Linked DNA regions of Homo sapiens: region 1 is linked to region 2. Evidence: fine-mapped expression QTL. Tissue or cell type: neural progenitor cells. Region 2 holds a variant in brackets; the other region holds the start of a gene. All regions are shown on one strand. Distances are from middle to middle.

Evidence for each region. PIP is the estimated chance that this variant, and not a neighbour inherited with it, causes the effect.
Region 1: DNAAF3 starts here. The variant in region 2 is fine-mapped to the expression of DNAAF3 in neural progenitor cells (Aygun 2021, PIP 0.95).

Annotation. Positions count from the first base shown.
Region 1 is chr19:55,162,984-55,171,084 of GRCh38, reverse strand. It overlaps DNAAF3 (dynein axonemal assembly factor 3), which reads left to right and starts at 4,472. Exons shown (of 12, transcript NM_001256715.2): 1 at 4,472-4,562; 2 at 4,668-4,756; 3 at 5,085-5,227; 4 at 5,622-5,715. The coding sequence starts at 4,672. DNAAF3-AS1 (DNAAF3 antisense RNA 1) reads right to left here. Exons shown (of 4, transcript XR_007067345.1): 3 at 6,285-6,541; 4 at 4,181-5,266. LOC124904795 (small nucleolar RNA U13) reads right to left here and starts at 3,914; the gene lies at 3,811-3,914. RefSeq lists a silencer at 4,861-5,092.
Region 2 is chr19:54,891,589-54,899,689 of GRCh38, reverse strand. It overlaps a transcript of NCR1 not described here. Among named protein-coding and RNA genes, the nearest start is that of NCR1, 11 kb to the left of the region's middle. RefSeq lists enhancers at 5,548-6,300, 6,301-7,051. The variant C/A (reference allele first, on the strand shown) is at 4,404.

The sequences.
Region 1 (8,101 bases), 270 kb before region 2:
TTCAAGACCAGCTGGGCCAACATGCTGAAACCCTGTCTCTACTAAAAATACAAAAATTAACTGGGTGTCGTGGCAAGCACCTGTAATCCCAGCTACTAGGGAGGCTGAGGCAGGAGACTCGCTTGAACCCAGGAGGTGGAGGTTGCAGTGAGTCGAGATCGCGCCATTGCACTCCAGCCTGGACAACAAGAGCAAAACTCCATCTAAAAAAAGAGAGAGAGAGAGAGAGAGAGAATTCCTGTGAAATGCTCAGAATCACACAGCCAGAGAGCCTGTCTCTAAATCCTGGGATTGATTTAGATGATGGCAATGGGGTCCTTGGGTCTCTGTCTCAACAAGAAAGCAGAGCGATAGAAGAATAAAACCATTACAAATGGCCGTCCACACTGGGACCAAAACGTAAAAAGGCTGACATAACTTAGGGAGGGTGGTCAGGGGCAGCCTTGCTGAGGAGGTGCGGTCTGGGCCATGACTTGAATGACAAGAAGGAACGAAGCTTGCAAAGGTTAGGGAGAACAACAGTGGAATATTATTTGGTCATAAAAACAGAAGAAAGCATTGATTCATGCTTCAGCATAGATGAGTCCTGAAAATATTATGCCAAGTGAAGGAAGCCGGATACAGAAGGCTGCATAGTGCAGTATTCCATCCAAAAGAAATCTCCTGCACTGACAAATACATAGAGACAGAAAGTAGATTCGTGGTTGCCAGGGACAGAGGAGAGAGAAATGGGGAGATAAATGGGGTACGTGTTTTCTTTTGGAGTGATGAGAAAGTTCTGGAATTAGACAGTGGTGATGGTTGCACAGCATTGCAAGTGTACTAAATGTCATTCCCAATCAACTTAATAGTGTGTGTGTTTTACACCAATTTAAAAAGAAAACAAGGCCAAGCACGATGGCTCATGCCTTAATCCTAGCACTTTGGGAGGCAGGAGGATTGCTTGGGGCCCAGGGTTAGACACCAGCCTGGATAACCTCTCTATTTTTAAAATTTGTAAAGTTAGCTAGGTATGCTGGCACGTGGCTATAGTTCTAGCTACTTGGGGAGCAGAGGTGGGAGGATCGATTGAGCCCAGGAGTTTCAGGCTGGAGTACTCCAGCCTAGGCAACAGAGCAAGTCCCTGCCTTAAATAAATAAATAAATAAATACAGCCGGGCGCAGTGGCTCACGCCTGTAATCTCAGAATTTTGGGAGGCCAAGGCCGGCGGATCACTTGAGGTCGGGAGTTTGAGACCAGCCTGACCAACACGGAGAAACCCTGTCTCTACTAAAAATACAAAATTAGCTGGGCGTGATGGCACATGCCTGTAGTCCCAGCTACTCAGGAGGCTGAGGCAGGAGAATGGCTTGAACCCGGCAGGTGGACGTTGCAGTGAGCCGAGATAGCGCCATTGCACTCCAACCTGGGCAACAAGAGTGAAACTCCATCTCAAATAAGTAAATAAATAACAGCCTGGGCAACTAGTGAGACCCTTTCTCTACATAAATAAATAAATAAATATCCGGGCATGGCGGCACTTGCCTGTGGTCCCAGCTACTCAGGGGACTGAGGTGGGAGGACTGCTTGAGCCTGAGAGGTTGAGGCTGCAGTGAGCTATGATCACACCACTGAACTCAAGTCTGGATAACAGAGCAAGACTTTGTCTCAAAAATAAATATATAGAAAACAAAGATGAGGGGGAAGATAATTTAAGGCAAAAGAATCCCAAGTTGCAAAGGCCCTGGGGTTCAAACGGCTTGGTGTGTTCTCCAAGGAGCCAGGAGGCTGATGTGGCTTCAGGGGTGGATGACTGCAGATTGCATAGGGCATAGGGAGCCAAGCTAAGGAGCGGGGAATGTGTCCAGGTGCAGCGGGAAGACTTTGGAGGATTTGAAGAGGTGGGAGACATTATTTGATTTATGTTTAAGATCACTCTGGGCCAGGTGCAGTGGCTCACACCGGTAATTCCAGCACTTTGGGAGGCTGAGGCCGGCGGAACTCTTGAAGTCAGGAGTTCGAGACCAGCCTGGCTAACATGGTGAAACCCCGTCTCTACTAAAAATAAAAAAGAATCGCTGGAGCTGGGCACGGTGGCTCACGCCTGTAATCCTAGCGCTTTGGGAGGCCAAGGCAGGTGGATTGCCTGAGCTCAGGAATTCGAGACCAGCCTGGGCAACACGGTGAAACCTCGTCTCTACTAAAATACAAAAAATTAGCTGGGCGTGGCAGCGTGCGCCTGTAATCCCAGCTACTTGGGAGGCTGAGGCAGGAGAATTGCTAGAACCCGGGAAGCGGAGGTTGCAGTGAGCCAAGATCGTGCCACTGCACTCCAGCCTGGGCGACAGAGCAAGACTCCGTCTCTAAAAAAAAAATAATAAATAAATAAATCGCCTGGCTCGGTGGTTCACACCTGTAATCCCAACACTTTGAGAGACCAAGGCGGGCAGATCACCTGAGGTCGTGAGTTGGAGACCAGCCTGACCAACACGGAGAAACCCTGTCTCTACAAAAAATACAAAATTAGCCGGGCGTCCTGGCGCCTGCCTGTAATCCCAGCTACTCGGGAGGCTGAGGCAGAAGAATGGCTTGAACCCGGGAGGCGGAGGTTGCGGTGAGCCGAGATCGCGCCATTGCACTCCAGCCTGGGCAACAAGAGTGAAACTCTCTCTCTCTCTCTCTCTCTCTCTCTCTCTCTATATATATATATATATATATGTATATATATGTATATTTGTATTTTATTTTGTATATATATACAAAATATTTGTATTTTATTTTGTGTATATATAAATATATATACATATATTTGTATTTTATTTTGTGTGTGTATATATATATATATACACAAAATAAAATACAAATACAAAAATTAGCTGGTGTGGTGGCAAATGCCTGTAGTCCCAGCTACCTGGGAGGCTGGGACAGGAGAATCGCTTGAACCCGGGAGGCGGAGGTTTCAGTGAGCCGAGATCGCGCCACTGCACTCCAGCCTGGGTGTCACAGCAAGACTCCATCTCAAAAAAAAAAAATGTCACTCTGGTTCCTTTGCTGAGAATTTGTTGGGAGAGTGGGAGAAATAGGGAGGAAAGGCATTAATTCTCCAGAGAGAAACCCAGGATCTGGGGCTCTTGCAGGCTTAGAGCTGGCCTGGAAGGGGCTGGTTAGCCAGCCTGATTCTGCAGGAATGTCTGAGGTCTCAACCTTCGTTTCCCCAGTAGGTATTGTCTTCCCAGTGCCCAGATCTGCCCTCAGGAGGCAGATCCGCTGCACCTCTGCCCGCTGCACGCTACATTCCCATTTCACAGAGCAGCAGACTGAGGCTCAGAAAGGGTGACTGGTCTAAGCTCATGTGTCTGGGCAAGGAGAGGAGGCAGAGAGCCAAGTCCCCTTGGGCGCTGAGCCCAGTGCTGGGTGCTGGGGTGATCTAGAGATGTGCCTCATTCAGACTTTGGTTTTTCTTTTTTTTTTTTTTGAGACAGAGTCTTGCTCTGTCGCCCAGGCTGGAGTTCAGAGGCGCGATCTCAGTTCACTGCAACCTCTGCCTCCCAGGTTCAACAGACTCTCCTGCCTCAGCCTCCGGAGTAGCTGGGATTACAGGTGCGTGCCACCACGCCCGGTTAATTTTTGTATTTTTTAAGGTCGAGGCGCGGTTTCACCATGTTGGCCAGACTGGTCTCCAACTTCTGACCTCAAGTTATCTGCCCACCTTGACCTCCCAAAGTGTTGGGATCACAGGCGTGGCCACAGCGCCCGGCCGACTTACCCTTATTTTAATGCAGTTGATTTAACTGTACGATTACAGAATTTACCTGTAATTTTTTTGTTCATGTCAGAAGAGTAATGTGCCGATGTCGTAACAAGGTTTGAGGGAGGCACATCTCACGCATGCGCGTGAACACCCAATCATCCCGCTTAGAAACTACAAAAGGATCTAGCTGTAAGTTTAAATTATGGCTTCGTGTAACAATAACCAGCTCACAAATCCCTGAATTTTTAATGACCTGCACATCAGTGTCCCACCTGTGGGCTGTTCTGTGTGGTAGAGCCCACGTTGTGCTGGGGCGGGGAGCGGGCTCAGAAGCCTGCCATCTAAAGTCTAGACACTTCACTTTATTTGAATTGATGAAAATTCCGTTACGTATGAGCAAAGGCATATGAAGAAAACAAAAAAACAAAAAACAAGAAATAAGATTAAGCTCCCTTCACTCTCAATTTTAATCAGCCCAGGCCTCCCCCATTCCAGAAATTTGGACCGACCCTGACTCCGCCCCAACCTGTTCTAGCACCGCCCCTTCCCCCGCCGGCGCCGTCGTCATGACAACCGCGTCCACACGCCCTCTTCTCCTAGGTGTGGGGGAAGGCTGGCCCTCAGTGCTCCCATTGGCCAAAAGTTTGTAGAGGGCGGGCCTCGCTCACTCTCATTGGTCAGTTGCTCGCTGTGGTCCCATCCCACATGCTTCCATTGCTTGATTCCTCGAAAAGGGCGGGGACTCTGGGCAGCGGTTGTGGAGTGCCGCGGGTCCACAGTGCTGCACTGAGCAGAGAGGAAGGGGCGTCCCGGGATATTTGGAGGATAAAGGTGTGGGCAAGGTATCATGTGGAGGCAAAGGGGCGAGAAGTGAGGGGCGGTGAGAGGGGAGCGGGGCGGGCAATGTGTGCGATTCCCAGAATGTCTTTTCCGCAGGGTGATGACCACACCTGCCGGCTCCGGCAGCGGCTTCGGCTCCGTGTCCTGGTGGGGCCTGTCCCCGGCGCTGGACCTGCAGGCTGAAAGTGAGTCCCAGCACGCAAGGTCTGATACACCGTCTGCCTTCCCAGCCTGAGCAGACGGCCTTTTAGAGCTCGTAGTCCCAGCGTCGGTGGCAAGGGGGGCGCTAACGTTCTCCAACGCTCCAGCGGCAGAGGGCGCGCTCCCAGGGGCAGCCCCGAGGTCCTGTCTGCGGACTGCGAATCCCAGAATACTCAGAGGAAACACCTCCCCTTAGAACCTAGGCCACGGGCGGAACGCCTACTGGGATTTGTAGTCCATTTTTTATAGGGGATGCTACGGTGGACGCTCTGCCAACCACCATGGTGCCCCAGCCAGCTGTCATCTTGCCAGGTCCTCCTGTGGACCCAGACTCCCAGGCCGATACAGTGCACAGCAACCCCGAGCTAGATGTGCTGCTTCTGGGCTCTGTGGATGGACGGCACCTGCTGCGGACCCTGTCCCGAGCGAAGTTCTGGCCTCGCAGGAGGTTCAACGTGAGCTGGGATGAAGATGAGAGCCCAGATTCCCGAGTCCTTGAGGGAGGAAGGGATTGAAATTCTAAAACCTCAGGTCCAGGAATGAAGGGGCTGGAGACTCCTAGATCTGAGGGAGGCAGAAGCTGGGAGCGAACCGATGCGTCTTGGGGGAAGGAAGGGGCTGGGGTTTGGAACTCCTGGGTTCTATAGTGGGGAAGAGCTCGAGGATGAGGTCTTCTGAGTAATGGAAGGGAAGAGAGCTCTGGGGACACAGACTTCTGTGTTTGAAGGAAGAGGCTGGTGTACAGAACTCGGGTGTGTGGAAGGAGAGAGCTGAGGGCCTGCTCTCCTGGGTCTCCTAGGACCCAGGCAAACAGGTCTCAGAATTATTCTGCCCTGTCCATCCTTCTAGTTCTTTGTGCTGGAGAATAATCTGGAAGCTGTGGCCCGACACATGCTGATCTTCAGCCTAGCCCTGGAGGAACCGGAGAAGATGGGGCTGCAAGGTCTGTTGCTAGGACCCAGGCATTCTGACCGCTGGTCTCCTCCCCCTCCCTAGAGGGATTCTGGCATTTCAATGGTACAATTAAAAAGTTTGGTTATTTTCCTGGGAGGCGGAGGTTACAGTGAGCCGAGATCGCGCCATTGCACTCCAGCCTAGGCAACAAGAGCGAAACTCCGGCCGGGCGCGGTGGCTCACGCCTGTTAATCCCAGCACTTTGGGAGGCCGAGGCAGGAGAATGGCGTGAACCCGGCAGGCGGAGCTTGCAGTGAGCTGAGATCGCGCCACTGCACTCCAGCCAGGGTGACAGAGCGAGACTCCGTCTCAAAAAAAAAAAAAAAAAAAAAAAAAAGAGAGCGAAACTCCATCTAAAAACCAAAAATGTTTGGTATTTTCCAGTGTGGTACCTCTGATGAAAAAAAAAATCCAATATATTTATTGATGATGGTCCCCTCTGATGTAATTTGCCATCTTAGAGCCTCAGCTCCTCCTACCTGTAAAATGGGGCTAAATATAATACATCTTAGAGCCACTTAGAAAATTCCAGGAGAGGCTGGGTGCAGTGGTTCACACCTGTAATCCCAGCACTTTGGGAGGCTGAGGTGGGCAGATCACGAGGTCAGGAGATCGAGACCATCCTGCTCAACATGGTGAAACCCCGTCTCTACTAAACATACAACAATTAGCCGGGTGTGGTGGCAGGCGCCTGTAGTCCCAGCTACTCGGGAGGCTGAAGCAGGAGAATCACTTGAACCCGGGAGGCAGAGGTTGCAGTGAGCCGAGATCACACCACTGCACTCCAGCCTGGGCGACAAAAGCAAAACCTCCATCTAAAAAAAAAAGAAAGAAAGAAAAAGAAAACAGGTTTGTTTGTTTATTTATTTATTTATTTGAGGCAGAGTCTTGTCCCGTTGCCCAGATTGGAGTGCAATGGCACGATCTTGGCTCTCCATAACCTCTGCCTCCTGGATTCAAGCAATTCTCCTGCCTCAGTCTCCCAAGTAGCTGGGATTACAGGCATGCACCACCATGCCCGGCTAAGGTTTTGTATTTTTAGTAGAGCCGGGGTTTCACCATGTTGGCCAGGATGGTCTCGAGATGCTGACCTCAGGTGATCCGCCCGCCTTGGCCTGCCAAAGTGCTAGGTTTACAGGCGGGTGCGATCACACCCGGCCCCAAGAAAAGAGGTTTAATTGACTCACAGTTCCACAGGCTGTACAGGGAGTATGGCTGGGAAGGCCTCAGGAAACTTACAATCATGACAGGAGGCGAAGGGGATGCAGGCATCTGTTCCACGGCAGGAAAAGGGGCAAGAGAGGCAGTGGGGAAGAGGCGCACACTTGCAAATAACCAGATTTTGTGGGAACTCACTATCACGAGAACAGCAAGGGAGAAATCTGCCCCTGTGACCCAATCACCTCCCACCAGGCCCCGCCTCCAATATTGGGGATTACAATTCAACATGAGATTTAAGCAGGGACACAGATCCAAACCATATCAGTCATTAATGACCCAGGGAATTCAGAGTACATTGCACAGTACAGATTGTTCAAAGTTCTTAAACAGTTAGAACTAAACTGATCTATTTTACTAAAGGCACATAGTTCTCTTCTATTAAGTTCTTAAACAACTAACATGAAACTATTTGTATGTCTATGTGTATATATATTATATGCAAAGGTATATACAGTCATCCCTCAGTAACACTGGGGACTGGTTCCAGGACCCCTGCAGATACCAAGATCCAAGGATGCTCAAGTCCCTTATAAAATTGTATAGTATTGCCAGGGGCGGTGGCTCACGCCTGTAATCCTAACACTTTGGGAGCCTGAGGTGGGAGGACTGCTTGAGACCACGAGTTTGAGACTGGCCTGGTCAACATAGTGAGACCCCGTCTCTACAAGAAATAAAATATTGGCCGGGCGCGGTGGCTCACGCCTGTAATCCCAGCACTTTGGGAGACCGAGGCAGGCAGATCACGAGGTCAGGAGATCGAGACCATCCTGGCTAACACGGTGAAACCCCGTCTCTACTAAAAATACAAAAAAAAAAAAAAAAAAATTAGCCGCCGGGCGCGATGGCTCACGCCTGTAATCCCAGCACTTTGGGAGGCTGAGGCGGGTGGATCACGAGGTCAGGAGATCGAGACCATCCTGGCTAACACGTGAAACCCCGTCTCTACTAAAAATACAAAAAATTAGCCGGGTGTGGTGGCGGGCGCTTGTAGTCCCAGCTACTCCGGAGGCTGAGGCAGAAGAATGGCGTGAACCCGGGAGGCGGAGCTTGCAGTGAGCCGGGATCGCGCCACTGCACTACAGTCTAGGCGACAGAGCGAGACTCCGTCTCAAAAAAAAAAAAAAAAAAAAAAAAAAAAAAGAAAAAGAAAAGAA
Region 2 (8,101 bases):
TACCCCTTCTCTGCTTTTCTGGGGGGGCAAGAACCCCCCAACCCCTTCTCCTTCACCCTTAGTGGCAAGTACCGCTTTTCTAGGGGGCAAGAATCCCCCGATCCCTTATTTCTGTGCCCTGACGTCTTATCTCTGCACCCCGATCCCTTATTTCCACACCCCGACCTCTTGTCTCTGCACCCCAATCCCTTACTTCTGTGCCCTGACCCCTTTCCCGCTTTTCTGGAAGGTAAGAACCCCTGAACCCCTTCCCTCCATGTCTCTACTCTCTCTTTTCTCTGTGCTTGCCTCCTTCAGTATGGGCAACCTTCCACCCTCCATTCCTCCTTCTTCTCCCTTAGCCTGTGTTCTTAAAAACCTAAAACCTCTTCAACTCACACCTGACCTAAAACCTAAATGCCTTATTTTCTTCTGCAATGCTGCTTGACCCCAATACAAACTTGACAGTGGTTCCAAATAGCCAGAAAACGGCACTTTCAATTTTTCCATCCTACAAGATCTAAATAATTCTTGTTGTAAAATGGGCAAACGGTCTGAGGTGCCTGACATCCAGGCATTCTTTTACACATCGGTCCCTCCCTAGTCTCTATGCCCAGTGCAACTCGTCCCAAATCTTCCTTCTTTCCCTCCCGCCTGTCCCGTCAGTCCCAACCCCAAGCATCGCTGAGTCTTTCTAATCTTCCTTTTCTACAGACCCATCTGACATCTCCCCTCCTCGCCAGGCCGAGCTGGGTCCCAATTCTTCCTCAGCCTCCGCTCCTCCACCCTATAATCCTTTTATCACCTCCCCTCCTCACACCCGGTCCAGCTTACAGTTCCATTCCATGACTAGCCCTCCCCCAACTGCCCAGCAATTTCCTCTTAAAAAGGTGGCTGAAGCTAAAGGCATAGTCAAGGTTAATGCTCCTTTTTCTTTATCTGACCTCTCCCAAATCAGATAGTGTTTAGGCTCTTTTTCATCAAATTTAAAAACACAGCCCAGTTCATGGCTCATTTGGCAGCAACCCTGAGACGCTTTACAGCCCTAGACCCTAAGTCAAAAGGCCGTCTTATTCTCAATATACATTTTATTACCAAATCTGCTCCCAACATTAAATAAAGCTCCAAAAATTAAATTCTGTCCCTCAAACCCCACAACAAGACTTAATTAACCTCGCCTTCAAGGTGTACAGTAATAGAGTAGAGGCAGCCAAATAGCAACATATTTCTGAGTTGCAATTCCTTGCCTCCACTCCAGTATCCAGATGAGACAAACCCCAGCCACATCTCCAGCACACGAGAACTCCAAACGCCTGAACCGCAGCTGCCAGGGGTTCCTCCAGAACCTCTTCCCCCAGGAGCTTGCTACAAGTACTGGAAATCTGGCCACTGGGCCAAGGAATGTCCACAGCCTGGGATTCCTCCTAAGCCGCATCCCATCTGTGCGGGACCCCACTGAAAATCGGACTGTTCAACTCACCTGGCAGCCACTCCCAGAGCAGCTAGAACTCTGGCCCAAGGCTCTCTGACTCCTTCCCAGATCTTCTCGGCTTAGCAGCTGAAGACTGACACTGCCCGATCCCGATCGCCTCGGAAGCCTACAGGACCATCACAGACAGTCTAGGTAACTCTCACAGTGGAAGGTAAGCCCGTCCCCTTCTTAATCAATATGGAGGCTACCCACTCCACATTACCTTCTTTTCAAGGGCCTGTTTCTCTTGCCTCCATAACTGTTGTAGGTATTGACAGCTAGGCTTCTAAACCTCTTAAAACTCCCCAACTCTGGTGCCAACTTAGACAATACTCTTTCAAGCACTCCTTTTTAGTTATCCCCACCTGCCCAGTTCCCTTATTAGGCTGAGACACTTTAACTAAATTATCTGCTTCCCTGACTATTCCTGGACTACAGCTATATCTCATTGCTGCCCTTCTTCCCAATCCAAAGCCTCCTTTGTGTCCTCCTCTTGTATCCCCCCACCTTAACCCACAAGTATAGGATACCTCTACTCCCTCCTTGGTGACCAATCATGCACCCCTTACCATCTCATTAAAACCTAATCAACCTTACCCCGCTCAATGCCAATATCCCATCCCACAGCATGCTTTAAAAGGATTAAAGCCTGCTACAGCATGGCCTTTTAAAGCCTATAAACTCCCCTTACAATTCTCCCATTTTACCTGTCCTAAAACCAGACAAGGCTTACACATTAGTTCAGGATCTGCACCTTATCAACCAAATTGTTTTGCCTATCCACCCCGTAGTGCCAAACCCATATACTCTCCTATCCTCAATACCTGCCTCTACAACCCATTATTCTGTTCTGGATCTCAAACATGCTTTCTTTACTGTTCCTTTGCACCCTTCATCCCAGCCTCTCTTCGCTTTCACTTGGACTGACCCTGACACCGATCAAGCTCAGCAAATTACCTAGGCTGTACTGCTGCAAGGCTTCACAGACAGCCCCCATTACTTCAGTCAAGCCCAAATTTCTTCCTCCTCTGTTACCTATCTCGGCATAATTCTCATAAAAACACACGTGCTCTCCCTGCCAATCGTGTCCTAGTGATCTCTCAAACCCCAGCACCTTCTACAAAACAACAACTCCTTTCCTTCCTAGGCATGGTTAGCGTGGTCAGAACTCTTACACAAGAGCCAGGACCGCACCCTGTAGCCTTTCTGTCCAAACAACTTGATCTTACTGTTTTAGCCTAGCCCTCACGTCTGTGAGCAGCGGCTGCCGCTGCTTTAATAGTTTTAGAGGCCCTCAAAATCACAAACTATGCTCAACTCACTCTCTACAGTTCTCATAACTTCCAAAAATCTATTTTCTTCCTCACACCTGACGCATATACTTTCTGCTCCCCGGCTCCTTCAGCTGTACTCACTCTTTGTTGAGTCTCCCACAATTACCATTGTTACTGGCCCATACTTCAATCCGGCCTCCCACATTATTCCGGATACCACACCTGACCCCCATGACTGTATCTCTCTGATCCACCTGACATTCACCCCATTTCCCCACATTTCCTTCTTTCCTATTCCTCACCCTAATCACATTTAGTTTATTGATGGCAGTTCCACCAGGCCTAATCGCCACTCACCAGCAAAGGCAGGCTATGCTATAGTATCTTCCACATCTATCATTGAGGCTACCGCTCTGCCCCCTCCACTACCTCTCAGCAAGCCGAATTAGTTGCCTTAACTCAAGCCCTCACTGATGCAAAAGGACTATGCATCAATATTTATACTGACTCTAAATATGCCTTTCATATTCTGCCCCACCATGCGGTCATATGGGCTGAAAGAGGTTTCCTCACTACACAAGGGTCCTCCATCTTTAATGCCTCCTTAATAAAAACTCTGCTCAAGGCCGCTTTACTCCCAGAGGAAGCTGGAGTCATTCACTGCAAAGGCCATCAAAAGTCATCAGATCCCATTGCTCTAGACAATGCCTATGCTGACAAGGTGGCTAGACAAGCAGCTAGCTTTCCAACTTCTGTCTCTCACATCTATGCTTATGCTGATAAGGTAGCTAGACAAGCAGCTAGCATGCCAATTTCTGTCCCCCACAGCCAGTTTTTCTCCTTCTCATCAGTCACTCCCACCTACTCCCCCACTGAAACTTCCACCCATCAATCTCTTCCCACACAAGGCAAATGGTTCTTAGACCAAGGAAAATACCTCCTTCCAGCCTCACAGGCCCATTCTATTCGGTCGATATTTCATAGCCTCTTCCATGTAGGTTACAAGCTGCTAGCCCATCTCTTAGAACCTCTCATTTCCTTTCCATCCTGGAAATCTATCCTCAAGGAAACCACTTCTCAGTGTTCCATCTGCTATTCTACTACCCCTCAGGGATTGCTCAGGTCCCCTCCCTTCCCTACACATCAGGCTCGGGGATTTGCCCCCGCCTAGGACTGGCAAATTGACTTTACTCACATGCCCTGAGTCAGGAAACTAAAATACCTCTTGGTCTGGGTAGACACTTTCACTGGATGGGTAGAGGCCTTTCCCACAGGGTCTGAGAAGGCCACCGAGGTCATTTCTTCCCTTCTGTCAGACATAATTCCACAGTTTGGCCTTCCCACCTCTATACAGTCTGATAGCAGACCGGCCTTTATTAGTCAAATCAGCCAAGCAGTTTTTCAGGCTCTTGGTATTCAGTGAAACCTTTATATCCCTTACAGTCCTCAGTCTTCAGGAAAAGTAGAACAGACTAATAGTCTTTTAAAAACACACCTCACCAAGCTCAGCCACCAACTTAAAAAAGACTGGACAATACTTTTACCACTTTCTTTTCTCAGAATTCAGGCCTGTCCTCAGAATGCTAAAGGGTACAGCCCATTTGAGCTCCTGTATAGACGCTCCTTTTTATTAAGCCCCAGTCTCATTCCAGACACCAGACCAACTTGGAATGTGCCCC[C/A]AAAAACTTGTCATCCCTACTATCTTCTGTCTAGTCATACTCCTATTCACCATTCTCAACTACTCACACATGCCCTGCTCTTGTTTACACTGCTGGTTTACACTGTTTTTCCAAGCCATCACAGCTGATATCTCCTGGTGCTATCCCCAAACCACCACTCTTAACTCTTGAAGTAAATAAATAATCTTTGCTGGCAAGGCTATGCTGAACCTCCTTAGGCACTCTCTAATTAGATGTCCTAGGTCCTCCCAATTCTTAGACCTTTAATACCTGTTTTTCTCCTTTCCTTATTCCATTTAGTTTTTCAATTCATACAAAACTGCATCCAGGCCATCACCAGTAATTCTAAATGAAAAATGTTTCTTCTAACAATCCCACAATATCACCCCTTACCACAAAATCTTCCTTCAGCTTAATCTCTCCCACTCTAGGTTCCCACGCCGCCCCTAATCCCGCTCGAAGCAGCCCTGAGAAACATCGCCCATTCTCTCTCCATACCACCCCCCAAAATTTTCGCCATCCCAACACTTTACCACTATTTCGTTTTATTTTTCTTATTAATATAAGAAGACAGGAATGTCAGGCCTCTGAGCCCAAGCTAAGCCATCATATCCCCTGTGACCTGCACGTACACATCCAGATGGCCGGTTCCTGCCTTAACTGATGACATTCCACCACGAAAGAAATGAAAATGGCCTGTTCCTGCCTTAACTGATGACATTATCTTGTGAAATTCCTTCTTCTGGTTCATCCTGACTCAAAAGCTCCCCTACTGAGCACCTTGTGACCCCCCACTCCTGCCCACCAAAGAACAACCCCCCTTTGACTGTAATTTTCCTTTACCTACCCAAATCCTATAAAACGGCCCCACCCCTATCCCCCTTCGCTGACTCTCTTGTCGGACTCAGCCTGCCTGCACCCAGGTGAAATAAACAGCCTTGTTGCTCACACAGAGCCTGTTTGGTGGTCTCTTCACACGGACGCGCATGAAACAGACCAGCCTAGCCAACATGGTGAAACCCCGTCTCCACGAAAATACAAGAAATTAGCCGGGCGTGGCGGTGCGCACCTGTAGTTCCAGCTACTCGGGAGGCTGAGGCAGGGGAATCACTTGAACCTGGGAGGCGGAGATTGCAGTGAGCCCAGATCACACCAGCGTAGCGACAGAGTGAAACTCTGTCTCAAAAAAAAAAAAAAAAAAAAAAGAAAAAGAAGTTTTCTAAGGCCAGGCGCAGTGGCTCATGCCTGTAATCCAAGCACTTTTGGGAGGCTGAGGCGGGCAGATCACCTGAGGCCGGGAGTTCGAGACCGGCCTGACCAACATGGTGAAACCCTGTCTCTACTAAAAATACAAAAATGAGCTGGGCATGGCGGCGGGTGCCTGTAATCCCAGCTTCTTGGGTGCGGGGGGGATCTGTTCTGCAGATCCCAGCTGTACGACAGATGAGACACGTCCTCAGACACCAATATTCAGTGAAAGAGCAGGCCAGGGGGCTGCCGGCACTAGGAGCCAAAGAGAGTGCAGCCCCTCTAAGCTGGCAACGCTTGCATTTATTTAGCACAGATTTAATTAACAAAGGCTTTGAGTCAACACACCTGTGGGTAATTAACCTGGTCACCGCCCCCCGCCACCTCCCTGGAGAGGGCCATCTTGCCCGAGAATGATCAAAGGTTGATTTTAGGACCATATGACTAAGCAAGCTATTTAGATAAAATACTCCGCATTCCTTTGTATCTGCGCCCTAAGCTGTTTGGCTCCTGAAAAGAGAATCTGGCTGCTTTCAGCCAAACTATCTGAAGCTATGCCAACCTCCCTGGCCTTCCAAGAAGGTTTGCTGCTTCCTATTCCTATAATTTCTTCTGCTACTCTGACTGATCTCCCACACTTGGGAGGTTGAGGCAGGAGAATCCCTTGAACCAGGGAGGCAGAGGTTGCAGTGAGCCGAGATCACACTACTGCACTCCAACTTGGGTGACAAGAGCGAGACTCCATCTCAGAAAAAAAAGTTAAAAAAAAATTGTAGGCCAGGCGTGGTGGCTCACGCCTGTGATCCCAGCACTTTGGGAGGCCAAGGCGGGTGGATCACCTGAGGTCCAGAGTTCGAGACCAGCCTGACCAACATGGAGAAACCCCGTCTCTTCTAAAAATATAAAATTAGCCAGGCGTGGTGGCGCATGCCTGTAATCCCAGCTGCTCTGGAGGCTGAGGCAGGAGAATGGCTTGAGCCCAGGAGGCGGAGGTTGCGGTGAGCCGAGACCGCACCATTGCACTCCAGCCTGGGCAACAAGAGTGAGACTCTGTCTCAGAAAAAAAAAAAAAAAAATTGTAGTAAAAACATAACATACAATTTACCATCTTAGCCATTGTAAGTGTACAGTATAGCAGTGTTAAATGTATTCACGGTGTTTTGAAACAGATCTCCAGAATATTTTCATCTTGTAAAACTGAAACTCTATGCCTAAAAGAGGAATCGTTCAACACATAGAAGTTTTATTTCAACCATTTTTGTTGTTGTTGTTGAGATGGAGTCTTGCTCTGTCACCAAGGCTGGAGTGCGGTGGTACGATCTTGGCTCACTGCAACCTCCGCCTCCTGGGTTCAAGCCATTCTCCTGCCTCAGCCTCCTCAGTAGCTGGTAATGCAGGTGCGTGCCACCACACCTGGCTAATTTTTGTATTTTTAGTAGAGACGGGGTTTTGCCATGTTGGCCAGGCTGGTCTCGAACTCCTGGCCTCGTGATCTGCCTGCCTTAGCCTCCCAAAGTGCTGGGATTTCAGGTGTGAGCCACTGCGCTCAGCCTGGGAAATGTATACTTCAGAGATTGTTGGATTTTCAGGGCCTTCTGTGGCTTGACGTCATCTGGAAAAGTGTGGTCATTGGGAAGATATTACTTTGATTGGTTGTCACTCATGCTTGGGTGTTTACTGAAATGAGTCTGATTGGATGACTTTTAGAAGCAAGGAGCTGCCTGACTGATGGTAACATAACAATATAAAACGTATGGAGTGGCCGGGCTTTGTGGCTCACTCCTGTAATCCCAGCACTTTGAGAGGCTGAGGCAGGCAGATCACCCTGAGGTCAGAAGTTTGTGACCAGCTTGGCCAACATGGCGAAACCCGTCTGTACTAAAAATACAAAAATTATCTGCGTGTGGTGGCAGGTGCCTATAATCCCAGCTACTGGGGAGGCTGAGGCAGGAGAATTGCTGAACCCGGGAAAGAGAGGTTGCAGGGAGCCGAGGTCACGTCACTGCTCCCCAGCCTGGGTGACAGAGCAAGACCCCGTCTCAAAAAAAAAAAAAAAAAAAAAGAGCATCTTCACAGAGATGAGTTGTCATTGATGATGGGTTAAAAATCAGTTTTGGTGGCTACTTGTTACTGTGGTTACAGGACAATAAAATACTTTTCTGAAGAGCTCAGGAACTTTATTATTCTGAAAACGCTTTTTCCAAACAAGGTCCTTCTGTCAGCAAAACGACTTATATGAGTTTAATCTTATCCATCTCTGGGAATCTAGCCCCATTGTGTCTCTGTAATCCAAGTCCTGGACCTGACGTAAAGTCCCTCAACCCCCTTCATCCAAAATTGTGGCACTTTCCCTTTATTTATTTATTTATTATTTATTTGTTTGTTTACTTTTGAGACGGAGTCTCGCTCTGTGGCCCAGGCTGGAGTGTAGTGGCGTGATCTCAGCTCAT